Linked DNA regions of Homo sapiens. The protein of the gene in region 1 interacts with the protein of each later gene in a biochemical or structural test. Each region holds a gene or a part of one and is shown in the gene's direction. Other genes may lie near its edges.

Evidence for each region.
Region 2: of the proteins of FAM20C (region 1) and KNG1, one has a biochemical effect on the other in vitro, tested with the Homo sapiens proteins (one large-scale study listed by IntAct).
Region 3: of the proteins of FAM20C (region 1) and PPP1R3A, one has a biochemical effect on the other in vitro, tested with the Homo sapiens proteins (one large-scale study listed by IntAct).
Region 4: of the proteins of FAM20C (region 1) and GOLM1, one has a biochemical effect on the other in vitro, tested with the Homo sapiens proteins (one large-scale study listed by IntAct).
Region 5: of the proteins of FAM20C (region 1) and SERPINA10, one has a biochemical effect on the other in vitro, tested with the Homo sapiens proteins (one large-scale study listed by IntAct).
Region 6: of the proteins of FAM20C (region 1) and SERPINC1, one has a biochemical effect on the other in vitro, tested with the Homo sapiens proteins (one large-scale study listed by IntAct).
Region 7: of the proteins of FAM20C (region 1) and CARTPT, one has a biochemical effect on the other in vitro, tested with the Homo sapiens proteins (one large-scale study listed by IntAct).

Annotation. Positions count from the first base shown.
Region 1 is NC_000007.14:195,571-199,070, forward strand, and holds part of FAM20C (extracellular serine/threonine protein kinase FAM20C precursor), read left to right. Parts: coding exon 1-162; intron 163-1,562; coding exon of another isoform or gene 1,563-1,930; exon of another isoform or gene 1,931-3,500. UniProt on the Homo sapiens protein: Golgi serine/threonine protein kinase that phosphorylates secretory pathway proteins within Ser-x-Glu/pSer motifs and plays a key role in biomineralization of bones and teeth.
Region 2 is NC_000003.12:186,716,155-186,720,158, forward strand, and holds the start of KNG1 (kininogen-1 isoform 1 precursor), read left to right. Parts: upstream 1-1,204; 5' UTR 1,205-1,388; coding exon 1,389-1,583; intron 1,584-3,950; coding exon 3,951-4,004. UniProt on the Homo sapiens protein: Kininogens are inhibitors of thiol proteases.
Region 3 is NC_000007.14:113,909,010-113,912,509, reverse strand, and holds part of PPP1R3A (protein phosphatase 1 regulatory subunit 3A), read left to right. Parts: intron 1-3,500. UniProt on the Homo sapiens protein: Seems to act as a glycogen-targeting subunit for PP1. PP1 is essential for cell division, and participates in the regulation of glycogen metabolism, muscle contractility and protein synthesis.
Region 4 is NC_000009.12:86,093,059-86,096,558, reverse strand, and holds part of GOLM1 (Golgi membrane protein 1), read left to right. Parts: intron 1-3,500.
Region 5 is NC_000014.9:94,290,469-94,294,505, reverse strand, and holds the start of SERPINA10 (protein Z-dependent protease inhibitor precursor), read left to right. Parts: upstream 1-1,237; 5' UTR 1,238-1,317; exon of another isoform or gene 1,318-1,827; coding exon of another isoform or gene 1,828-1,897; intron 1,898-3,862; coding exon of another isoform or gene 3,863-3,912; coding exon 3,913-4,037. UniProt on the Homo sapiens protein: Inhibits activity of the coagulation protease factor Xa in the presence of PROZ, calcium and phospholipids. Also inhibits factor XIa in the absence of cofactors.
Region 6 is NC_000001.11:173,910,828-173,914,327, reverse strand, and holds part of SERPINC1 (antithrombin-III isoform 1 precursor), read left to right. Parts: intron 1-2,313; coding exon 2,314-2,529; intron 2,530-3,436; coding exon 3,437-3,500. UniProt on the Homo sapiens protein: Most important serine protease inhibitor in plasma that regulates the blood coagulation cascade. AT-III inhibits thrombin, matriptase-3/TMPRSS7, as well as factors IXa, Xa and XIa. Its inhibitory activity is greatly enhanced in the presence of heparin.
Region 7 is NC_000005.10:71,718,026-71,721,545, forward strand, and holds CARTPT (cocaine- and amphetamine-regulated transcript protein preproprotein), read left to right. Parts: upstream 1-1,249; 5' UTR 1,250-1,268; coding exon 1,269-1,427; intron 1,428-1,854; coding exon 1,855-1,938; intron 1,939-2,482; coding exon 2,483-2,590; 3' UTR 2,591-3,020; downstream 3,021-3,520. UniProt on the Homo sapiens protein: Satiety factor closely associated with the actions of leptin and neuropeptide Y; this anorectic peptide inhibits both normal and starvation-induced feeding and completely blocks the feeding response induced by neuropeptide Y and regulated by leptin in the hypothalamus.

The DNA of each region.
Region 1 (3,500 bases):
AAGGTGCAGAATTCCTCTCCCCCGGGGAGGCGGCCGTGGACTCCTATCCCAACTGGCTCAAGTTCCACATTGGTATCAACCGGTACGAGCTGTACTCCAGACACAACCCGGCCATCGAGGCCCTGCTGCACGACCTCAGCTCCCAGAGGATCACCAGCGTGGGTAGGTGTCCTTGGGTGCACTCAGGGCCGTCTGTGTGCCGGCTGTGTGGCATCAGGGCTGCTGGGGCAGGCTATGTGTTAGAGAGGTCTGGGAGGCCGTTGCTCATTACGGCAGCGTCACCTCCTGCAGCAATCTGCACGGGCAGCGAGGAGGGACAGAGGGCTCGCGTCTCGTGTGCTCTCACACTGGATGTGCTCCTGATCTGCCGCACGATGAGCGGGGAGACGCCTGGACAGCCGGTCCACTGCGCTCTGCGTCCTCACCTGGGTGGTCCCGGGGGTGCCAACTGGATGACAGAGTCCTTCCCTCCTGGGGTAGAGGAATAGAGGGGTATCTCTGGCGGCGGTGACCCCTCCACCGGAAGCGTGTGCATGGAACTCTCCTGCTTTTCTACACACGACCCTGGCTGGGTGGGGAGACAGCCATGAGCCTGCTTCTTGTGGTTTTGAAGCCGTCCTTCGTCAGACCTCAGCAAGGCGCTGTGCAGTTTCATACTGAGGAGACATAGGCAGGGCTCAGGACGGAGGCCTGGGCCTCCCAGATGGAGGAGTTTGAAGGCAACATCTCCAGGTACTTTGGGATCTGCTGAATTGGACAAAAAAGGGCATCCAGTTGCTGATTTCAGGAAAATATGCCACTGCAGCTTCTGAGCGTGGAGGTTTGGTGCCATTGTTCTCAGCTTGTAGGCGATTGTTTGTGAAGGTCCCATTTGTCACCAGTGCTTGGAGAGGTAGTGAGGGCGGGGCTGAGGCCCTTTAGTGGGAGCAGCTGCTCCCCGGGGATTGCAGGGAGTGGGCCTGGGTGCACACAGCTGTGGGCAGGTGCAGAGGCCATGACAGCCTGAAGGCAGGGCTTTCTTTGCGCTGTGTGATGAGGCCAGCAGTCCCAGGCATTAGCTTCATGTGTGTCTCAGAAGCAACCTTGGTGCTGAAAGGGTCCCAGCAGCCTGGGGTTCTGTCCAGTTGCTGACACAGGACTTAGGTGTCCCCTTTCAGGCCAGCAGGTAGGTTCTCCTGAGCTCTTCGGGGCTGTTTCTGGCTCTCTCTGCCGGGTGCTGAGTTGTTTGCTGGGCACTCACCTGGTCATGGGGAGACAGAACTTGCAGCTCTCTCCCCACCCCTTGATCAGCTCACCTCATAACAGAGATCAGCTGGACAAGCTGGGAGTCCTCTTCCCTCCATGCTGCCTGGGAGTAACCTGAACCCCTGCCCCCCTCCAGGCCCCCCTCCGTGAAAGCGCTGCCTTTCTCCTGCCCCTGCAGCGGTCTGAGGGCTTTCAGCTGTGCTGGGGAACAGTCCTGCAGACAGCCACAGCCAGAACGTCCCTTCTGCCCCTGAGAGTGAGCATGGCCATTAAGGAAATATCCGATGCATTGATCAACATGTTTGTCCATTCAGCAGATTTTACTGGCACCTCCTGCATGTCAGACCCCCTTTCTGGGTGGTGGGGAGTTGAGGATGAGTTCAGCCTCAACGAGATCTGCTGCCTCTGTGGACCTGACAGCCCCAGGAAGAGACACACACGCACAGTGCCCGATCCTGAGGAGGAACGAGCACTTCAGAGCCGTGCACGCCAGCCAGGCCGTGTGGAGAGGAGGGGGCTCCACTGGGAGGGGCTGAGGACCTTCCACAGGGTCTGTCGGGCAGCTTACCTTCCAGGTGGGTCCGTCTTGGCAGGGAGAGGAATGAGAGAGCCGTGCACACCAGCCAGGGCGTTCGGGAGGAGCAGCACGCAAGTTAGAAAGTCCCCAGTGCCGCTGTCCGTATGAGCTTCTCTCCAGCTCATTTTCCCCATCTGTCCAGTGGGATCTCGCTGCGTGGGACCAATGCAAGGATAGGATGAGATGTGCATGTGAGCAAGCTTGTTAAATATTAACTAGTACTTTGTGCGTGGCCTTCCACAACAGTCCCCTCGTGTGCACAGGCAGGGTCTGAGCAGAGGGAGGGCTTTGTGGATTCCAAAGGCCACCAGGCCCTTGGCAGGCAACTGCAGCTCGCCACCTCCCTCACCGACCGGTCAGCTTTCCAACACCAACACTGAAGAGGTGTGGGAGTTCTGTGCCAGGAGCTCCCAGAGCAGCTTCAGGGAGAGTGTGGGGCCCCCTGGGACCTGGGGCATCTTTGCCCACCTTAGGAGTGCTTTGTCCATCTGGACAAGCTAGGCTTGGCTCACTGCCACCCCTCTTTGGTCCAGCTGTCCCGGGGCAGTGGTGCCCAGGCTGCCTGACATTGCAGGGGTGTGGACAGAGCCCTTGCCAGGGAATCCCTACCCCAGGATTCTGGTGTGGCCTCCGCCTGGGTGTGTCCTGGTTAATTCCTGTGCCTACTGAAGGCCTGCCCCAGCTGATCTCGCTCGCTCGCCTCCTAGACCATGCTGGCCACATTGGTTCTCATCCAGTCTTCTGGGGTGGGGACCCGTCCAAGGACAGGCTGGCTGCTCAGTCATTCTGCAGGGCCAAGCAGGGCCTGCAAGGACGATGGGCAGACACAGCCGCATCACCCAGGCAGGACAGCAGGCTCTGGCCCAGGAGATCTGGGGGTGAATCCTGGCTCTGCCAGCCATTAGCCAGAGTGGAAGTGGGCAAATGGATTAACGCCTCCAGCACCTGGTTTCTCACCGAGAACACAGAGAAGGTTATAATCTGGACCTGGTATAATCTGGACTCTGACTTACAAATCTGAATGCCAAGCAAAACCCATTCACTAGCGAAAACTGACTCAGGCTGAACGTATTTAGGGGCAAAACCTAAATTGTCGAGGCTAGTTAAAAGTCCTGATTTTTCTCTGTTACATTGAATAGTCACATGTTCCTCTGAGGAACAGGAGTGGGTTTAATTATGGGGTTCTGCCCTAGACCCGTGTGGGCATGCCATGATCCACACCATGCACCACGTGTGCCTTTGTCATCGAAATACCTGCAGTTCCCAAATACATCTGGCCTCACAGGGTTGTTGGGGCTTAAATGTGCAAATACGAGTAAAGAGGTGAGAGCGGAGCCTGACAGCGCACCTGCTGGGCAGGGTCTCCAACACTGCAGCATTTTGGGGGAAGCTCTCCTACTGGGTGGGGTCTTTGTACAGCAGCAGCATTTCAAGGTGGGCTGATCCTTCTCATCTGGGGAAGCCAGGGCTGGGCAGGTGCCTGAGCCTCATGAGGGTCTCAGTCTAGATGCTGGGCCCTATTCTCCCTGCTGCCTTGGGCTTGGAGATGCTCACAGGTGAGTTCTCATTTGTGAAGAGGTCTGTCTTCCTGAGGAAGCAGGGGACCCTCACCTGTGAACCAAGTGTGCCATGGGAGCTGCTCCATGTCCAGGTCCAGGTCTCCTGGTCTGCAGGGAAC
Region 2 (4,004 bases), on another chromosome or scaffold:
AATCTCAGCTCACTGCAATCTCCACCTCCCGGGTTCCAGCAATTCTCCTGCCTCAGCTTCCCGAGCAACTAGGATTACAGGCATGTGCCACTACGCCCGGCTAATTTTGTATTTTTAGTGGAGATGGGGTTTCTCCATGTTGGTCAGGCTGGTCTCGAACTCCCGACCTCAGGTGATCCACCCATCTCAGCCTCCCAAAGTGCTGGGATTACAGGTGTGAGCCACCGTGCCTGGCCAATTTTTACTGGAGTAAGGATGTTGATACCATCAAGCCTCACACTTCTGCTGAGATTATCAACTGTAGTTTTCCAATGTTGGTCTACAGGTGGGGACCATTCTGTAATATAGTTTCCCCACTCTGTGTTGATGTGAGGAAAATAAGAATAATAAAGTTTTATTGCTGGCTTTGAGGGAGAAGGGTTCTATGACCCGCCTTGGGGAAGAGAAATTCTAGCTTCTGTGGCCTGCCTTGAGAGAAGTGGAGCAGGAGAAAGACGGGCAGGAGAAAGCAAGAAAGAGACTTTGCTTTTGCAGCCTTTTTAATGTCTTTCAGTTCAAAGTACTCGGCATGCCAAAGAGCCATATTTGGGGCTATCTTTTTCTGTGCCAAACCAACAACACCAAACCAGAAAGAAGCAAGCATAGGGAATCCAGGGCTTCACTCAACCCATCCCTTCCTATGCTTTTCCTCTATCTCCACCCTGGGAGCAATTTTCTTTTACAGAACTAATGCAACTGAGCAGAGAAAGGCTGGCCTGTCCAGAGAGCAGATAGGACGCCCATATTTTATTTTCAGTTGTGCCAATGTCCTGCATGGGACTCCTGGAACTCACTGGATGCCCCTGTGCATGAGCTTCTTAGGCATGTAATAGAATTAACAGCAGTCTGCTTCTATGCAGGTAGGTATCCTGCAAAGAAACTTTGTATGAAATGTGTCTGCACATTGTACTCATTCTTGCATTGTTTACCCATGTAGTGACCTTCAAAAATGGCTTTGCAAAAGTCACAGGGGAATAACCGAGTTAGTAGGCACTTGTTTCCCCTCCTTCATCAGATTCTGCTCTGATTTGCTACATAAAGTTGTATAATCACCTGGAAATATGCACTGTGCTGCCACGTGATTTTCAAATGCAAATGAGCAGGTTAACAACCCCAGTGTTGCAATGTTCTAGCTGTAAATATGTTTGGATAACCCAGCAGAGCCATTTAACCTTTGGGAACAAGGCAACTAGCGTCTGGCAGCAGGAATCCAACCAGTGCCCTGAGTTCTGAGGCAGAGAGGAGGACAGAAGAAACAAGAGGCTGGAGATTGTCAAATTCAGTATCCCAGTTGGCTCTTGATTCTTGGTGAAACCATCCCTCAGCTCCTAGAGGGAGATTGTTAGATCATGAAACTAATTACCATCCTTTTCCTCTGCTCCAGGCTGCTACTAAGTTTAACCCAGGAATCACAGTCCGAGGAAATTGACTGCAATGACAAGGATTTATTTAAAGCTGTGGATGCTGCTCTGAAGAAATATAACAGTCAAAACCAAAGTAACAACCAGTTTGTATTGTACCGCATAACTGAAGCCACTAAGACGGTGAGTGAATTGTGTTTAACCTTGAAGTCACTTGGGATTTGTACTATCACTAGGAGTCCAGGCCTCACACACACACACACATACCACCACCAGCACCCACCACCACCACCCACCACCCACCACCATCACCCACCACCACCACCACAACCACCACCACCACCCACCACCACCACCACCATCCACCACCACCCACCACCCACCACCACCCACCACCATCACCCACCACCCACCACCCACCACCACCCACCATCATCACCCACCACCACCCACCACCATCACCCACCACCCACCACCACTCGCCACCATCACCCACCACCATCACCCACCACCCACCACCCACCACCACCAACCACCACCATCCACCACCACCAACCACCACCCACCACCACTACCACCCCTCACCACCCACCACCACCGCCACCCACCACCCACCACCATCACCCACCACCACCACCATCCACCACCACCACCCAACCACCACCACCCACCACCCACCACCATCACCCACCACCCACCACCACCCACCACCCACCACCCACCACCATCACCCACCACCTACCACCCACCACCCACCACCACCACCACCCACCACCACCCACCACCCACCACCACCACCACCCACCACCACCCACCACCACTACCACCCCTCACCACCCACCACCACCGCCACCCACCACCCACCACCATCACGCACTACCAAATATGTGATCATCAAAGGTAGAAGCTTACAACTTGTGGAAAGACAGATACCACTCTCTGGCCTGGGGTGGGAGGACAGAGTATGACTCGTCCTCAGGCAGGTTGGCTTCCTGGATGATCAGAGAAGTAGAATCTAGGGTGAAATGAAACAAAAGTAGATGGAGAAATCTCAACAGGACCAAGTAGAGAGGGAGAATTTAGGAATTTAGTTAGACTGCAGCAAAAGAATTCACTGGGTCTCTGGCCCTAGGCTAAAAACTATAGAACTCCAAACCTTTAATGGGAGGGGGTACTTCATGGGGCATGTCTAAGAGGAGTGAGGAATGAGGTTAATGTGATTCTACGGAATTAGACAGAAGTCTGTATGGCTGAATGTACTGGGTTTAACAGCAACGTTTTAGTTAGTTTTTGATATTATTGCAATGATGCACTCCAGCAGGAGACAAATCCTGGCAGGATGCATGGTTCAAAGAAATACCAATCTTTCAAGAGTATGTTTAAACAAATTTCACTATAAAAGACTATATCTCTGGGAATGTCAAGCAATTGGTTACTTTAGCAGAAAAAAAAAAACTAGCCATGTGACAACATGGGGATAAAGGAAAATAAACACAGTGGACATGTTATTTTTTCTGAAAGTAAAATCGAGCCATTTTCTTTCATAATCTAGTACAGTCATGTGAGAAATTCTGCTTCATGGTGATCTCAAGCAACAGTTTATTGGTGGTGTGGTACCCAATAGATTGTGGGTATGGTTGTAAATATACTAAAAAACATTAAATTGTATGCCTTTAGTGGGTAAATTTTATGGCATGTAAATTATATCTCAATAAAGCTGTTTAAAAAAGAAAAAGTAGGAAACAAAATAAACCAAATAAAAGTACTAAAATCACCCATAATTAATTCCACCATACAGAGATAACTGTTAACATTTGTTTAAGGTTTTCTTGTTTGCTTTTTCTAATTTGTAAAAGTCATATACGTTCATTAGGGGAAAAAGACCACTTAGAAATGTTTGCTTGGGCCGGGCGCGGTGGCTCATGCCTGTAATCCCAGCACTTTGGGAGGCCAAGGCGGGGGGATCACGAAGTCAGGAGATCGAGACCATGGTGAAACTCAGTCTCTACTAAAAAATACAAAAAAGTAGCCAGGCGTGGTGGAGGGCGCCTGTAGTCCCAGCTACTCTGGAGGCTGAGGCAGGAGAATGGCGTGAACCCGGGAGGCAGAGCTTGCAGTGAGCCGAGATCACGCCACTGCACTCCAGCCTGGGCGACAGAGCGAGACTCCATCTCAAAAAAAAAAAAAAGAAATGTTTGCTTGAAGAAGAAAGTGAAAGATAATTATAATCTCACCACTGACAGACAAACATTTTAACAGCTTGCTGTGTATCTTTCCAGACTTTTAAAAGACATAGATTTATATATAAACCAGTTTTGACAAAAATGGGCTAATACTATGCATACTGCTTTGTAACCTTTAAAAGTACATTGTGAATATATTATAAACATTCTTTCACATAAATGTTTATGATAGAAATATAAATATATTTTAAGTGAATGCTTTGCTCTCAAGTCAAAGATCAATATTCCTAACTTTACCGGAACCCACTAGAATTATTTGCTGTTGGGTCAGTTGGATGAACCCTAAGTATCTTTGGCTGCTTTTCAGGTTGGCTCTGACACGTTTTATTCCTTCAAGTACGAAATCAAGGAGGGGGATTGT
Region 3 (3,500 bases), about 110 Mb from region 1:
CTTAAAAAATCCTCTATAATCTGACACCTCATTTTGTAACCTTGCCTAAAATTTACATATATGTGTTTGTGTATATATATATGTGTGTGTGTGTTGTATGCTTATATATGTATGTACACATGCACACACATGTGTGAGATTTTCCTTCTTAAATGGAGACCCCTCGAGGGTGGCAGGAGCTATTTCAATCTTATACCCATTGAGGTCAGTTGCACAGAGGCACTTTGAGTTTGGATTGAGAAAATGGAAATGTCTGATTTTAGAGCAGAGAGCACTACAGAATACAAGGTAGATTTAAGTACGTTGTGATAGGGTTCCATAGTAGTATGAGACTCATGGGGTCTGAAGTACATGTGTATATGGAGGATGGAGAATTCCAAAAACATTGAAGCATAATGGAAACAGCAAGGGCTTTAAAGTAAGGCAAGACCTTGAGGCTTTAATTCTAACTAATTACTATCTGCTTGACTTGGATAAATTATATTTTGTATCTATTTTATTCAAGTGTAAAATAGGGATAATAATTTCTACTTGGCAGAGTTGCTATGAGGAATACATTAGCTAACACATACAAGCATCTATTCCAGTTGCTGACATTTTGTAGATACTCAAAGTGGTAGTATTAATGACATTGGTGATAAATTCCACATTTTCCAATCTTGTGTATGGCTAGTACTGTGCCCAAGATTAACGGAGAAATGCTGTTTTCCCTCATCATTCCTGCTACCAGGACCCAGGCTAAAACAAATAGTTTCAAAATTAATCATGTTATGGTTCAATAAGTCTTGGGGGACTAGCCAGGGAGACGAGTATTTATAGCATTGCTTCTATGGGTAAATGATTTCCAAATTTTAGCAACTTCTGGGTCACACACAAAAAAAGCTTTGGAACATCACCTGTTCATAAATTGGAAACTGAGGACATGTTTTTCTTAAGGTAGTTCTTCTGAAGATGGTTCTTTTGGACTAAATATCTGAGTTGATTGCACACAATTCACCTTATTATCTCTTTATGCCTATGAATAGAAGATGAAATTGAAGTTTATATAATTCTCTTCTTCTAAGAAAATACATTATGCAACATCAAATTTCGGTCATTCCTCTGTTTTAAAGCATTCTATGTATCCCACAACTATACGAAAAGGAATATATCTCTTTTCAGAGTATTATCTCTCAAATCTTTTCTGGTGTCCATTCTGCTGCTTCAATAGCTTTACTAGGTTAACTAGCATGGTAGTGTTATTATCTGTTAAATAAAAATAACAACTGGTTTTGAAGCCTTAATCATGCCATCCTGCTGTTTAAAGATCTTATGATAAAAAGATGAAAACAAGGAATTTGCTAAATTTAACTGTTATACTGCATTGCTCAGGGACAGAGACCAATTAAACAAACCTGTCGTAGGAAATTCTAAAATTCCCTCCACACCAAGTTACTCTGAAAATGATCTGTCTGTGTTGTATATCAGCACTATTCAAGTCACAACTATGAATTGAATTTTAATATTGTAAGGTAATGGTTGTCTTATGTGTAGTCATGGTTTTGATTTTTATTTACACCTTTTGAAATTTGCAGTAGTAAAAAGGATTCAAGTACCCTCCCCATTGATATTTGTAAATTATACTGAATAGTGAAAATGCTTTTCCTAATTATGTGAAAACATTTCTTAGCCCATTGACACCATCAGAATATCATCCGTGGTATTTAGAGAATTAAGCCATGGTACAAACCTAACCTATTGACTATAAATCTGTATGAATAACCTCCAGCTGATTTTCATTTCTAAAAATTACTGTGGATGTGTTAACACAATTACAAATCACATAGAGTTGCTAAGATAAATTTCAGTTTCACAAACTATATTTGAAAAACAAAATATAGTCTATCAACCTCACCTTTTGAAGATTAATATTTATAAATAATTTTATTATATGTTAAAACAACTTAAATCTTGTAAGTACTTACCAATAGAAAAATTGAAGTTTTAAAAAGTCACATTTAGCTGCAGCAGAAAATAGATTATATTGTTCACATATAATCTTAAGTAGGTGCATAAGATTATTGTGTTTATTGTATTTAGTATTTAGTGTAAATATAGTTATAATTATTGTTTCCAATGTTAATACAGTACTTGATTTCTGAACAGTTTTTGTTGAATCCTTTTGTAGGAGAGACTATCTAATTCTATCCTTTGCTTTTAGCAGTATTCAGAAAACACCCAGGTCAAATGGTTATATATTTTCTTCTTAATCATCTTGATATGGTTTGGCTGTGTCCCCATCCAAATCTTACCTTGAATTGTAATAATCCCCACGTGTTAAGGGTGGGGCCAGGTGGAGATAATTGAATCATGGGGGTGGGTTCCCCCATACTGTTCTCGTGGTAGTGAATAAATCTCGTGAGATCTGATGGTTTTATAAATGGGAATTCACCTGCACAAGCTGTCTTGCCTGCTGTCATGTAAGATGTGCCTTCGCTTCTTTGTCTTCCGTCATGATTGTGAGGCCTCCCCAGCCAAGTGAAACTGTAAGTCCATTAAACCTCTTTCCTTTATAAGTTACGTAGTCTCAGGTATCTCTTTATTAGCAGTGTGAGAACAAACTAATACATATCTCTTGGGAAGATTATGTTCTTCAATAATGTGTTCTATCAGAAAAGTTCCATGACTTTAATGTAGCCACTTACGTTGTTCTGTCTTTAGTCATTTATTTACTCTTTCAGTTGAATTAAATGTTGGAATCCCTATCCTTATACATTAAAATCAAGCAAAATTATATTGTTTCTCTCACAGACTTCTATTTTCCATGTCAAATAACCTCAATAACTTTGTTTTTCCCTTGAGGTCTGAATTAGTTAACTAGAAAACAAGTTTGTAGTGTTTTAATGCATACGCCAGAGAAGAAAAAACTCCATCATCAACTGAATTCTCATAAGGGGTGAATGACATCACTATTACCAGGACCATACATTGTCAACACTGATGGATCAGGAATAGCCCAATTGGTCAACAGGAGTTTAACTAAGGCACTCTCCAAGCCCTGCCTTCTTTGTTTGAATTCTCAGTGTTGGAGGTACTATTATTACAGTATTTCCTCTGGGAGTCAGAGAAGGAAAGGAAACTTTATTTTATAAAATTAGAAAGTTAAAAGTACTTCAGAAGATCGCTTCATTTATTCTTCTATCTTACCTAAAAAGATAGCTATATTAGAATTCTTGAAAACTGTGGACAAATAATGAGCAATTAAGAATTAAAGTTACACTATTTTCTAGATACCTAATTTTAAAATAACATTTCTTTCCAGAATGTAACTGTATAAATAAAATGCTGAACATAACTTTTTAGCCATTATTAATTTCTTTTTTACATTTTTATTTTATTTTAGATTCAAGGGGTCCATGTGCAGGTTTGTTACATGGGTTTATTGCATAAGGCTGGGGTTTGGACTTCCATTCCTCATATTGTAAATGTAGTAATCATGAGGTGGTTTTTCAAACCTTGCT
Region 4 (3,500 bases), on another chromosome or scaffold:
CATTTATTAGTGGAATAAACAGACCTCTGACTTGGTAGGTCTGGGGTCGGCCACAAAATTTGCATTTCTGACAAATTCCAAGGTAATGCTGATGCTGCTAATATGGGGACCACACTTTAAGGACCATTGAACTACAGCAGGAGTTGGCAACCTGTTTCTGAAAAGGACCAGATACTATTTTAGATGTTGCAGACCCTGTGGTCCCTGTCACAACTACTCAGCTCTGCTGTTATAGCCCAGTAGCCACAGATAATATGTAAATGAATGGGCATGGTTCTGTTCCAGTAAAACTTTATTTATGGATACAGAAGTTTTAGTTTCATGTAATTTTCATGTGTCATGAGATATCCTTTTATTTCCAAACCAAAAAAAAAAAAAAAACCTATCGAGCAGTTATCATGTGGTGTGTACTTTATTGCCGCTGTAATTTTTAATCCTCACAACAAAAGGTTTTACATATTTAAAGTCTCATATCACTGCATCCTAGAACATGGGGTCAGTAGTAAGCCTACTTCAATGGACTTTTACAAGGATTGAATAAGATACAGAGAGGGGGATTATACAACTCACCAAAATTCATGCAAATAGTAAGAAAGCTAGGATTAAAATTCCTTTTGGCCTGACCCACATCAGTACTCTTTTCCTAAGCCACACTGCCTCAACAGTACCGCTAAGGAAGCACTCAAAATAACAGGTAGCTAAACTGACATCTAATATCACTTCATGGCATCCAAATTCTCCAAGGAGCACTGAACCAGGAGTCACCTGCCAGGTCAGTCTCCATCCCTCTATCAGTAGGTCTGTGTGCGAGTTGGGGAACACTGCAAGTTTCAGCTGGTTCTCGGTTCTTCTTGGTTTTCAGCCCTGCTGGGCTCTTTTGGGTCTTTCCCACGCGCGCATAATCTTCCAGGCAGCCAGGAATATGTGGAGAATTTATCTCAGCCCTTTGAAGCACTCTGTCATGAAATATTATTCTTTTAACTTTCTTCAACCATTGAAAATGTAAAAACTGGCCAGGCACGTTGGCTCATGCCTGTAATCCCAGCACTTTGGGAGGCTGAGGTGGGCGGATCACTTCAAGTCAGGAGTTCGAGACCAACCTGGCCAACATGGTGAAACCCCATCTCTATTTTAAAAAAAAAAAAAAAGGGAAAATACAAAAATTAGCTGGGCGTGGTGGCATGTGCCTGTAATTCCAGCTACCTGGGAGGCTGAGACATTCGAATCACTTGAACCCAGGAGGCAGAGGTTACAGACAGCTGAGATTGCGCCACTGCACTCCAGCCTGGGTGACAAAGCAAGACTTCGTCTCAAAAAAAAAGAAAAAAAATGTAAAAACTATTCTTAATTTGTGGGCAGTGTACAAAAATAGATGGCTGGCAGGATTGGGCCCTTGGGCGGCAGTTTGTGACTCAAGGAAAAATTGAGCTCCTACTGAGATGTATTCTTTTTTCTTTTCTTTTCTTTTTCTTTTTTTTTTTTTTAGACGGGGTTTTTGCCCAGGCTGGAGAGCAATGGCACTATCTCGGCTCACCGAAAACTCCGCTTCCCAGGTTCTAGTGATTCTCCTGCGTCAGCCTCCCAACTATCTGGGATTACAGGCATGCACCACCACGCCCGGCTAATTTTGTATTTTTAGTAAAGACAGGGTTTCTCCATGTTGGTCAGGCTGGTCTTGAACTCCCGATCTCAGGTGATCCGCCTGCCTTGGCCTCCCAAAGTGCTGGGATTACAGGCATTAGCCACCGTGCCTGGCCCAAGATGTATTCTTTTTTAAATATTTTTTTGTAGAGACAGGGTCTCCCTGCATAACATTGCCCAATCTGGTCTCGAATTCCTGGGCTCAAGTGATCCTCCTGCCTCAGCCTACCAAAGTGCTGGGATTATAGACGTGAGCCATCGTGCTGGCCCCAGGATATATTCTTGACGGTGGTTCAACCTTTCTTCAGAAAATTTCAAAACAGGAAGAATTTGGTTCCCTAGTTCATTTTCACTCATCCACCTCGCTTTTTGGTGTTTCTACTACCTACCACTATACATTCATTTTAAAAGTTTTAATCTTTAGACACTGTCAGCTTCTAGCATTGGGGAAAAGATGGTGTTCATTTTGGGGAAGTGAGAGGAAGAGAGTCTGTGTATTTCCTAGTAAGTTTTTAAAGCAATTTAAGCAGAACACAGTGACCTTGGTCATTTAATCCCAATGGGTTAGAGGCAGAGTTGACAAACTGTCTAAATGGTCAGATGGTAAATGTTTAATCCTCACAATACCCTATGGGCAGAGTTGGTCTGTGAGTCTCTGTCTCTGTCTCAACTTTTCAGTTCTACTTTGTAGCCAGAAAGCAGCCATAGGCAGTATTTATGGCAGTGTATAGTAAAACTTTAAAAAAAAAAAAACCAGGCCCGGATATGGCCTGTGGGCCATAGTTTGCTCACCCCTGGCTTAGAGACATTCTTGGGACAGGGTGGAATATTTCCAGGCCATCAGAAAACTTGGTGACTGATTCTTTCCCGGACTCCAGGCTGCGCCGGGGTGTGCTCAGGTCTGTTTGCTCATTGCAGTGACTTCTGAACTTCCTGCTGAGCCGCTGGGGCCATTCCTCTGAGAAGGAGTTAGAGGTGTGGCTCCACCACTGTTTGGAGAAGCCCAGTTTCTGCACTGGTTGATGTTGGTCAAACATGCTAATCTGACGCGATTGCTCCTATATATTTGCTTTTCTGATTTAAAGCCCTATATGAAAATAAGGAAATGTTAAACATAATATTTGACTAGGAGGGTCAAGGGGCTCGTGTATTTGGCATGTTGTCCATTTTCATATGCCTTTTCTTTCTTTTAAAAAAAGTAATTAGAAGGCTTTGTTAAATTACAAACATTTTGTCTTAAAAGCAAATAATAATTTTAACCAATAGGTTGAATTTTTAAATTAAGCCAGTAGGTAAGAATATGCAGTTTTTTCCTTTTCTGATTTATCAAGTGATTTTTTTTTTTTTTTGACAGAAATCTTGCTCTGTCGCCCAGGCTGGCATGCAGTGACGCAATCTCAACTCACTGCAACCTCCATCTCCTGGGTTCAAGCAATTCTCATGCCTTAGCCTCCCAAGTAGCTGGAATTACAGGTGTGTGCCACCACACCCAGATAATTTTGGGGTTTTTTTGTTGTTGTTTCTTTTTTTTTTTTTTTTTTTGAGGCAGAATCTCGCTCTGTCACTCAGGCTAGAGTGAGTGGCGCAATCTTGGCTCACAGCAACCTCTGCCTCCCAAGTTCAAGCGATTCTCCTGCCTCAGCCTCCCAAGTAGCTGGGATTACAGGCACACACCACCATGCCCAGCTAATTGTATTTTTAGTAGAGACAGGGTTTTGATATGTTGGCCAGGCTGGCCTCAAATTCCTGACCTCAGGTGATCGTCTGCCTTGGCCTCCCAAAGTGCTGGGATTATACACATGAGCCACTGTGTACACCCAGCCTATCAAGTGATTTTTAATGTGAAAACACACCACTTG
Region 5 (4,037 bases), on another chromosome or scaffold:
AAAAGGAACACTCTGGAAACTTGTTGGGACACTTCTGCCTTTCACAAACGTTTGGGGGGAGTACTACTAGCATTTAAGGATTGAGGGTTAGCAATGCCAGACATACCAGAACACGCAGGGCAGTCTCCCATGATGAAGAGGCCGCCGGGTTCCCCAGGACTCACATGTCCACCTCAAGTTCACGTGGGATTATCTGAGCCTAGACTGTCAGTCCTGGGGCTGCTTTATTTCATATAAAAATATAATATTTATCCAAGGTTTTACTACACACTGCATTTTCTGTGAAGACAATGACCGTGTAAATCAGGGAAAGATCTATATTTTATTTTGTTTGAAACTTTACCAAGCATTATTTACCATTTCAAAAGCTCTATCCCTGGTAGTACCATTGGTTTTCTTGTTCACCGGCCAGCAGTGAGCAGCACACAAGCGACCTCCCGTGGGCTCCACATTGGACAGCCTCACTGCACCTGCCCAGGCCCTTAGGCCACAGCACTGCCATATTCAGGGACACATTATTCTCTTTTATTATGCCTCCATATTATCATTACAGCATTATCTTTTTTTTAATTTTGTGGGTAGATTATATTAGCTATACGTTTCACTTCAATGGTAGTAGTAAGGGGCACATAACAAAATATTTACTTATATATATTAAAAAAGAGAGTCTGAGAAGTCTGAAAAGTTTTGCCATAAACGGTCTCCACCAGCCTCAACTCTGAGTGCCCGAGGATTCAGTCTCAAGTCCAGCAACATTGTGAAGCAGGAAATTTACCTTGAAAGGAGCTATGTACTCTAAGTAGTGATTTACCTGTCTGCCTCCCCCACTGGATTGACCAGTTCCTTGGGGGCTGAGAGAACAGGTCCTGAACATTTCTGCTGTGCCCCCCAACCCACATCCTCATAGTGTCCAGTACCAGGCTGGGGACTCAGGAAGCATCCATGGGATCCCCCAGTGCCTTCTTTCTCGAGGTGTTCAGCACCTAGAACAGCTCAAGACAAATTCCCCACACCCCACCCAGACAGAGCTGAATCTTACTGGGGCGAAGCCTTGAGTTGCAAGGCAGAAGCTCTCGTGATGGGATTTGGGTCATATTCCGGGTTATAGGAGGAGCTGGGGAGTATGGGAAGCCTCCCACTTGGTCTTTGGTTTTCCAGAAACTCCACCATCACAAGCAGGATGTTAATCAGTAACCGTCCCACAGGGGATCATACTTTGGAATAGCAAATATTTGCTGAAGGTTCTGGGCTGCAAAGCTGAAGCTTTGGTTTCTGCTCTAAATGAAGGACTTTTCCAGGACCCAAGGCCACACACTGGTAAGAGGCAGTGGGTTACAGGAGACCTTCAATGAGTCTAATCAGGGAGGGACCGGGAAGGATGGTATCATCCCTGGGCGGGCTCCAACGTGAGGGCTGTGTGGCTGAGCAGTGCAAAGACCTCCATCCTACACTCCACAGGGACTGTACATACAGATTGGGAGCTGGAGTGGGGTAAGAGGCGAATTATAGACACAAGGGGCTCCTCTGCAGGAAGGAGGCCAAGGGAAAGAGGCTTGAAAGGCTTGATATTTCACCCACCACCACTCACTGCCGGAGTAAGCAGGTCTCCCCTTCCCAGGGCTGAGGGGAGGCAGGGATGTGTGCTGTCCCAGGGCTGAGAAGTGGCAGGTGAGCTGGTGATTCCTTACTGCCCAGGTTCTGTCTAGGAAGGTGCGTCCTCACCATGCTGGATGGTGTCCTAGTCCAGGAGCACCCCCTGAGCTCCTGGCCTAGACTCCAAAGGGTTGGGTAGATGAGCAAAGACTTTACAAAGACCTTAGGCGATATATGTCCAGGAGCACCCAGGAATTACTGGGCTACCACTGCAGACTGCAGGACAAGCTCCAAGAACAGGAAGGTAAGACTCAGCATTTGGAGGTGGTGACATCTAGTTGGCGTGCTGGGCTAATTTCCTGACCATTGTACAGGGAGAAGTAACCTTGAATTCAGGAGTATTCTGTGTGGTCTTAATGTAGAAAGTAGCACTAAATGATGCCACGTAATCGTTTTAGCTCAGGCTCCTCTAACAAAACACCACAGGCTGGGTGGCTCCAACAGCCATTGATTTTTCACAGTTTTGGAGGCTGAAAGTCCGAGTCAGGGTGCCAGCGTGGCCGGATTCTGGTAGGGCTGTCTTCTTGGCTTGCAGATGGCCACCTTCGCACCGTGTCCTCCCATGGAGAGGAGGTGCGGAGGGGGACTCTGCTCTCTTCTTATGACAGCACTAGTGCTATCACAGGGGCCTTGCCCTCACGACCTCATCTAAACCTAATCACCTCCCAAGCGCCCCAACTCTATTGCCATCACAATGGTGGTTCGGGCTTCAACTTATTAATTCTCAGGGGACACATTCAGTCCATAACAATAAAAGCGTGAAACTGGGCTGCGTTTACACTGAAAGAGCTATTTACCCAACGTTTACAATACTTGGGTGACCTGTTGAATGCAGGCTTGCCATTTAGAGTCAAAAAGAGCTTCCTCAACAGTGTCCTTTGGGAAACACAGTGGAAGTATTTCACTGCTTCTACAGGGGAGAGGGTAGTGCCGTTCAGACTGCAGAGTGAGGCCCTGAATTCCGGGGTGCCATTCAGCCCGAGCAAGGGGCAACATGCTGGGCCCTGGCGCTGGAGGCGGTTTTGTCCCAGGCATAGATAAGGACTCAGCCCCTGCATCAGGAAGAGGCCTGGCAGCACCGCCTGTCAATACATTTTGCCGCAGGTGACCTTGGTCAAGAATAAGGGTCTCTGCTGATGGGAACTACTGTGAGGCCGGCAGCATCCACCCTGCGCTCACTGGGCTGGGTGGCCTACCCCACCCAGACCCTCCCAGGGCAGTGGGCCCAGAGAGAGGATGAGGGAGGGCAGGTGTCCCAGGGGTTCTGCCCAGCCAGCCTCTGGGATCAGGCCTGCAGTGTGGCTGAACACCAGAACTGAGTTTGGACACAGCCAGGTGGCCCAGGCCAGTCCCAAGCCATGTATTTGGATGGAAAACATGGAAGTATTCAGGAGCCAGGCTCTGTGTCCAAGGATGTGGAGGGAGCCTAAAAGGCGACAGAGAAGGGGACAGCTAACGGTGAAGAAGTGTAGCTCCCACACTGCAGCCTAGGACAGTGAGAACCGGCATGCAGCCCAGGTGGCTGAGGGCTCTATGAAGCCACAGTGGAGGGAGCCCAGAAGTGGGTTGTATGAATTGCGGGGCCTCCTGCTACCCGGGAGCTGCAGCTATAGGAAGGAAGGAAGGAAGGAAGACCTCCAAGGAACTGTGTAGCAGAGGTGCAGTGCAAAGAGAATTTTGATAAAAAATCCAGGAAAGCTCCAATACTTTCCCCCTTCCTTGCCTAACGGGCATGCAGGCACTCCAATCCCCAGCCAAACAGGGCACTGGGCAAGGCCGGCCACCCATCTGGATGGGCAGCCTGACGACCAGATGGTCAGGGCAGTGAATGAAGCAGATCAAGGAAAGGTGTGTGAGGACCCCTGATTCCACCTGCTTGGACCCCCACCTTCTGTGCTGCCTCCTGCTCCCAGAGTGGACTCTCTTGCCCTGGCCCTCAGGGAGGAGACGGGATGAATGAAAACGGGGTCAGGACTGAGAGCTGCCTGCCGGCCTGGCAGGGAATGGGAACTGGAGGAGGTTTTGCTCTGTGAAATAATGTCCCCTCTTTGGGTGAGCAAATGTCACCCACACTTGCTCTAGGTCTCCCTGGGGCAGGGCTAACCTACTTGAGCCACAGGAAGGAGGCAGGGTCCCTGAAGAAGCTTTTACTATCCACAAAGACATTTTAGGAGGCATTAAAACCATCTCTATCCTCTCCTCTCCACAGGAAGTCTTGCAGCTGAAGGGAGGCACTCCTTGGCCTCCGCAGCCGATCACATGAAGGTGGTGCCAAGTCTCCTGCTCTCCGTCCTCCTGGCACAGGTGTGGCTGGTACCCGGCTTGGCCCCCAGTCCTCAGTCGCCAGAGACCCCAGCCCCTCAGAACCAGACCAGCAGGGTAGT
Region 6 (3,500 bases), on another chromosome or scaffold:
TCTTTTGAGCACCTTAAAATGGGGGAAGGCTTGTATCTTCTCTCAACTTCTTTTCAGTAATTCTTTCATCTATATGTTTACTCATTAATTTGATCATTTATTTATTTATTCATTCAGCACTTCCTCTGTGCCAGGCAATGTGTAGTGCCAGTCCCTCCTCTGGTGGAAGAAGAGTAGCTTTACCATATGGTGACATCAGGCATATAGGCTCTCGTGGAAAAAAATTCTAGGATAGTATTTTTTTTTTTTTGAGATGGAATCTCGCTCTATTGCCCAGGCTGGAGTGCAGTGGTGCAGTCTCGGCTCACTCCAAACTCTGCCTCCCAGGTTCAAGCAATTCTCCCACCTCAGCCTCCTGAGTAGATGGGATTACAGGCACACGCCATCACGCCCAGCTAATTTCTATATTTTTAGTAGAGATGGGGTTTCACCACGTGGCCAGACTGGTCTCAAACTTTTTTTTTTTTTTTTTTGAGACGGAGTCTCGCTCTGTCATCCAGGCTGGAGCGCAGTGGCACGATCTCAGCTCACTGCAACCTCTACCTCCCGGGTTCAAGCAATTCTCAGCCTCAGCCTCCCGAGTAGCTGGGATTACAGGCCCCCGGCACCATGCCTGGCTAATTTTTTTTCTTCTTAGTAGAGATGGGGTTTCACCATGTTGGCCAGGCTAGTCTTGAACTCCTGACCTCGTGATCCACCTGCCTTGGCCTCCCAAAGTGCTGTGATTACAGGCGTAAGCCACCGCGCCTGGCCTCAAACTCTTGACTTCAAGGGATCGGCCTGACTTGGCTTCCCAAAGTGCTGGGATTACAAGCATGAGCCACTGCACGGGGCCTAGGATGGTATATTGAGACCAGGGGCCCAGGAAAGCCAAGAGAAGCCTCAAGGACGTGAGAGTGTTTTCTGGCTCTGGGAAGTATGGATCATTTCAGCTCAGTGACTTAGTTCCCACCCCCTTCCCCCCACTGCCTTTTGTGGGAGGGAAGTAGGGCATGATAAGATGAAATGTCATAGATTGATTGATCACTGTTGGCCTCTGGGGCTATGACAAGTCATGGATGGAAACACTAGATCTTTAATCTGTCCTTGGCTTGGCTGCATGACAGTCTTTCTTCAAGTTGGATCACACTTTGGAAGCAGAGTTCATCAATAGGGAGGCATGAGTCCCTTCAAGATGGTATACGGTGCTTATTTGAAACTTGGACACTAAAGTCTGTGGGTCTTAGGAGGGTTCCTTCTATTCTAGTGGTCAATTTCCATGGAACTTCATCACCTTTGCTCAGGGCTCTGGGGTGAGTTAACCCAAGTCTTCACTCTTTGAAAGAAATTGTAGATTTAAAAACTCTGAAGACACATAATACTGCCTTCTCTGGGCCCTTCAGTCATTTTTGTATACATTGGTACTGGTCTCAAAGTACTTCCATATCACTCATGTCTCTGTCCCCAGGTAAGATCTTAAATGTAACCCTTCCTACAAGAAGAACAGAACAGAACACTGCTTCCAAACCACACATGTTCCTTTGGTCCTCCCCTCTACACAAACGCCATGTGTTGGGAAAGCAGGGTGAGACTGAATCTCTCTGGAGAAAAGAGAGATTCAGCACCAAGCTTTTGATCAAAAGCATAATCCCCCCCTAAAAAAAGTGCCTATTGGAGCAAAATCAGGAAAACCAAAGGCAGAGAACAGATAAAACCAAAAGGCCTTTTGTAGCCTGAGGAGAGAGCATGGAAAGGGCAGGAGGGGAACAGCCTCACCCATTTTGCCTTGGGGATGGTGAAGGTGGGCATTGGGGGATTCCAACTTCAAAGCATGGATGACTTCTAAGTCCTTTTCAGCCCTGAGCTCTTAGATTCTGAGCCTGTTTAATCCCTTGCTGATAGATTCACTCTTCCTTTTTCACCCCTACCACCAGTATCCCAGAGCCTCCATGAGCAGCTGGCCCCAGTAGATGCCACAAAAGTGTTTGTTACGAGAAGGACACCGTCCTGATTCTCTTCTCTGTCCAGAATCACCAAGAGGACTTTTCCCATTCCAGCAAGAAAACGTCTGTGTGTTGATCTAGAGGCGTTTAGAGACTTTAGGTGGCAACCTAGTCTCTCTTTTTCCCTTTATCCTTCCTACCCTTCATTCTTCTTTTATCCTTTTATTCATCAGAACACAAGAGTTGAGCATTTATGCTGTCCCAGGTACTGTGCTTGAAGGAGTTAACAACTGAGGTGGCTATTAGTCAGAGACTGACCAGCATGTGCTCACCACCCATGTTAACTAGGCAGCCCACCAAACCCACCACCATTTTTTTTTGACTTCTATAGGTATTTAAGTTTGACACCATATCTGAGAAAACATCTGATCAGATCCACTTCTTCTTTGCCAAACTGAACTGCCGACTCTATCGAAAAGCCAACAAATCCTCCAAGTTAGTATCAGCCAATCGCCTTTTTGGAGACAAATCCCTTACCTTCAATGAGACCTACCAGGACATCAGTGAGTTGGTATATGGAGCCAAGCTCCAGCCCCTGGACTTCAAGGTGAGTTGCAGATGTTACCCCTGACCTCCGAGTTCTTCCTCTCCACTCAGAGATTGAGGAGGTGGAGAAACAGCATCCAAATTCACACTGCTTTGCTGCTGAAGACTGCTGGAGGGCTGACTAAAAGTTAGAACCCCTGCAATAGTTATTCTTACTTGAAACCTGAGAAATCAAAGGTATCCATGCTTGGATTGTAGTGACTGCCCAGAAAACATGAATTAATAATCAATTCTTCATTCCATCCACCAACTTCAAATATATACCAAAGGGTGTTTTGAAGATGCCAGTTCTACAAGATATCTTACTTAATTTGAACTGTTATCATGGTCAAATAAAGTTGGTACATGATGCATGTTACATTCTCCTCTTGGAGATTCATGAAGCACATGGGCCTATGAAGGTTCTGAGAAACTCTGCAACAAAGAAATCTGTTGGCTTTATTCAATCGGCATTCCTCAAATGTATTTGACTGCATGGGCATTTCTCTCCTCCATATAACCTGCCAACCCCATATAACCTGCCAACCCCATATAACCTGCAATCATTCATTGCTTCCCCTGGCACATGCCTTGGAAATTCTACTTTTGTGAGTTAAGGTTTTCCAAAGTCAGAGAAAATAATATTTTATCTTCTTTTTCCCAGACTATTTTCGCCTTCCTTCTTTTCATTTATTTCTTCCTATTTCTTTTTGTTCTTTTTCTTCTGATAATATTTATTAACTACAGGAAAGATTCATGGAACTATATTAGATATGTGAGGCTTCCCCAATTTGGGTTAGAGCAATGGCTTCTTAATCAAATGGTGGGAAAGGACAGAGGGATGGTGAGAAAAATAAAATGCTGCCTGGGAAAATGGAGAAGCCAATTGAATAGCACAGGTGAGTAGGTTTATTTTCTGTTCTCCTCAGGAAAATGCAGAGCAATCCAGAGCGGCCATCAACAAATGGGTGTCCAATAAGACCGAAGGCCGAA
Region 7 (3,520 bases), on another chromosome or scaffold:
CTGTCTAGGACTGGGTTGTAGTAATGGGGATGGAGAAGAGTGGATGAATTTAGGAACAGTTGAGGGAAAGATGGTGTGGTGAAGGAAGCCAGGTGAGCAAGCAGGTCTAAGCGGGAAAGCATTGCTTTTCCTACAGGAATTTTCCTGTGCATTCAGGCTGTAAGGATCTCAACTTTTAAAAAAGCCACATTGTTCTCCCAAGTTGTTGGGGAGCTGGTTCACCATTGACTTCTGATCTCTGGAGATATTTTCATAATCATGGAGCTGTCTTTCTTTTCACTCTTTTACTCTCTTTCTAGACAGGCTTCTTGGATACCAAGGGTTGGTGGTGGGTGGGGGGAGGTTCTGGGGATGGTTAAATTTGCCTGGGCAGCCTCAAAGTTCAAAAAGGAGGGACAGGGAAGCTTAGCTAAGAACCAGGAGTTTGACATACTTAATCTCTCATTTCATCCTACTGATGACTTTGTGAGGTATATCTTTTTAATCCTAGATCTACAAAAGAGAAAGCTGAGGCTTGGAGAGGTTCTTCATTTTGTTCAAAGTCATACAACTTTTACGTGGTGTAGCCAGGATGGGAACCAGAGCCTGGCTCTCTGCACTTCCAACACCACTGCTGAATCCGGGTTTGTCTGTTTTCCCTCTCTTCTTTTAACTATTGTCACACAGATTCCATCATAGAACCCATCACGTGGAGGGCCACTATTTCTCTTTCTTTTGTATAGTATGTTTGCTTCCCCTACCCCACAGAGTAAGGTGCTCAGCAAATGTGGCTGTCTGGAGGCAACACCCCCTTCTCACCGCCACACTTGGGGTTGGGGTGCGAGGCAAGGCAGGGCTGGCGAGGTGGATGTTGCAGCTGTCACCACTGCTAGGTGTTGGGAAACGACTCTCCTGCCTGTGCATTGACCCGAAGGCATTTTCCATTTCCTAGGCCCCTCCCGCTTCCCGTCCCTCACCTCTAGCCCCTCGGCTTCAGCTCAGGCCCCTCGGGGAGCATCCCTTGCCGTGAGACTGACAGCCTTTGGGGGCGCAGGGTCCTGTTCTCTGCGCTCTAGCCCATCTGTGCGCAGAGCCTCGTTCCCAGGCGCCTGGAACCCGGCGGGCATTGACGTCAAGCGCCGGCGGAGCGCTGCCTACAGACGGTTGACCCGGGCCCTCCTCCACACCCCCTTCCTTCTTCGCCTCCTCCCTCTTTCCTGCACGGGGGCTCGGGCTCACTATAAAAGGTGGGAGCGCGTGGTGCCCCAGCAACGACGAGTTTCAGAACGATGGAGAGCTCCCGCGTGAGGCTGCTGCCCCTCCTGGGCGCCGCCCTGCTGCTGATGCTACCTCTGTTGGGTACCCGTGCCCAGGAGGACGCCGAGCTCCAGCCCCGAGCCCTGGACATCTACTCTGCCGTGGATGATGCCTCCCACGAGAAGGAGCTGGTCGGTATTCCCCTCGCTCTCGACCCCCTTGAGCTGTCGCCTTGTCTCTTCTCTTGCACGCCTCCCTCCTCCCCCCACCCCCACTCCTATTCCCAGAGTCAGGGCGCGGGGAGCTGAGCGCAACGCCCAGGCACCCACTGCCATCCGAAGAGCGTCTCGAGCTCACGGGCTCCTGGCAGTCTGTTGAGCGAATCCCTCATCCCGGCCCCTCTGAGCAACAGGGACCCCAGCGGCTCAGAGACCCGCGGTCAGTACCTGGGACAGCGTCCGCTAAGTTTCCACCCCTCGACCATTCCCTGTGTCCGCGGAGTCCCACCGCAGAGTGCGTGTGGGTCCGGGGCTCCTTATAACTAGGGCTGGAAGTGCGCACCTGGGCTGGGCTCGCAGCCAAGGCGGCAACTTCAGGCTCCGAAGCGGTGTGTTGCAGATCGAAGCGCTGCAAGAAGTCTTGAAGAAGCTCAAGAGTAAACGTGTTCCCATCTATGAGAAGAAGTATGGCCAAGTCCCCATGGTAAGGTTTGTGGTCACTCCCTTCCCGTGTTTTTCCAAGAGAAAGTACACCGCCTTGAATCGTACACACAGTCTTCTCCGTAGGATGTGGCTAAATAACTTAGGTAATGGGCTTGCAGGATTCTGTGGGCTCCTTCTTCCTTCCCGGGTGAGGAAATGGGAAAGCAGGAACAGGGGTTGTAAGAAAGTGTAAGTCTATTGTTTGTTGCTCAGGAAAAAGGTCTGATTTTTTTCCCCTCTGAGAGGGCAAGAAAAGGAGCCAGGAAATGTGATGCTCCCCTTCCCACGCCCCCCAACCCTCGCCACTTAAAGGTGGAAGAAACTAGGATAAAACTAATAATGTAAGTTTCTTTAAAAAATGTACTCTCACTGAGGTTATAAGCACAAGGCTCCCTGTTTCAGATCTGACTGTACGTAGACCTCTTGTGATGGTGATGGGGTCCAATTGCCCCTTTCAAGAGACAGAAATTGCGTTGACTGTGAGACTTGCCTGTTGGGAACCTGGGTTTGTTCATACTCGATGACCACACATTTTGTTGTTTCAGTGTGACGCCGGTGAGCAGTGTGCAGTGAGGAAAGGGGCAAGGATCGGGAAGCTGTGTGACTGTCCCCGAGGAACCTCCTGCAATTCCTTCCTCCTGAAGTGCTTATGAAGGGGCGTCCATTCTCCTCCATACATCCCCATCCCTCTACTTTCCCCAGAGGACCACACCTTCCTCCCTGGAGTTTGGCTTAAGCAACAGATAAAGTTTTTATTTTCCTCTGAAGGGAAAGGGCTCTTTTCCTGCTGTTTCAAAAATAAAAGAACACATTAGATGTTACTGTGTGAAGAATAATGCCTTGTATGGTGTTGATACGTGTGTGAAGTATTCTTATTTTATTTGTCTGACAAACTCTTGTGTACCTTTGTGTAAAGAAGGGAAGCTTTGTTTGAAAATTGTATTTTTGTATGTGGCATGGCAGAATGAAAATTAGATCTAGCTAATCTCGGTAGATGTCATTACAACCTGGAAAATAAATCACCCTAAGTGACACAAATTGAAGCATGTACAAATTATACATAATAAAGTGTTTTTAATAATTGCCCATAGTGCACTGCTGTTTTCATATAAGTAATTTAAGTGGAAATGGTGAGATTAATCATGCTGTTGTTTTCAAAGAAAAATATTTTAAAAATAGCAGCCTATTGGGAAAATGGCACCTTAGCTCCAAGGAGTTTTGATCGTTAATTAGAAGTTTGCCAAGCCAGTTTTAGTATACTCTATTTTTCTTTGATTGCAGCGATGTGGTGTGTGTATGTGTGTGTGTATGTGTGTGTGTGTGTGTGTGTGAGAGAGAGAGAGAGAAAGAGAGAGATGAATGAGATGGAGATGGTTGGAGTTGAGGTTATATAATTTTGTTTATTAAAACCTTTAGCCAGACCCTTTACTTTAAACAGTGAGACCAATAAACTATAAACAGTTTCATGTTTTAGTCACATTAAAAGCAATTTGAAAAATTAGAAATTTTGTTTTGACAACTCCCTTATTAGAAAATATACATTGATTTAAAGATATGGGCTGTTTAGGGTTGTTATTTGTCTA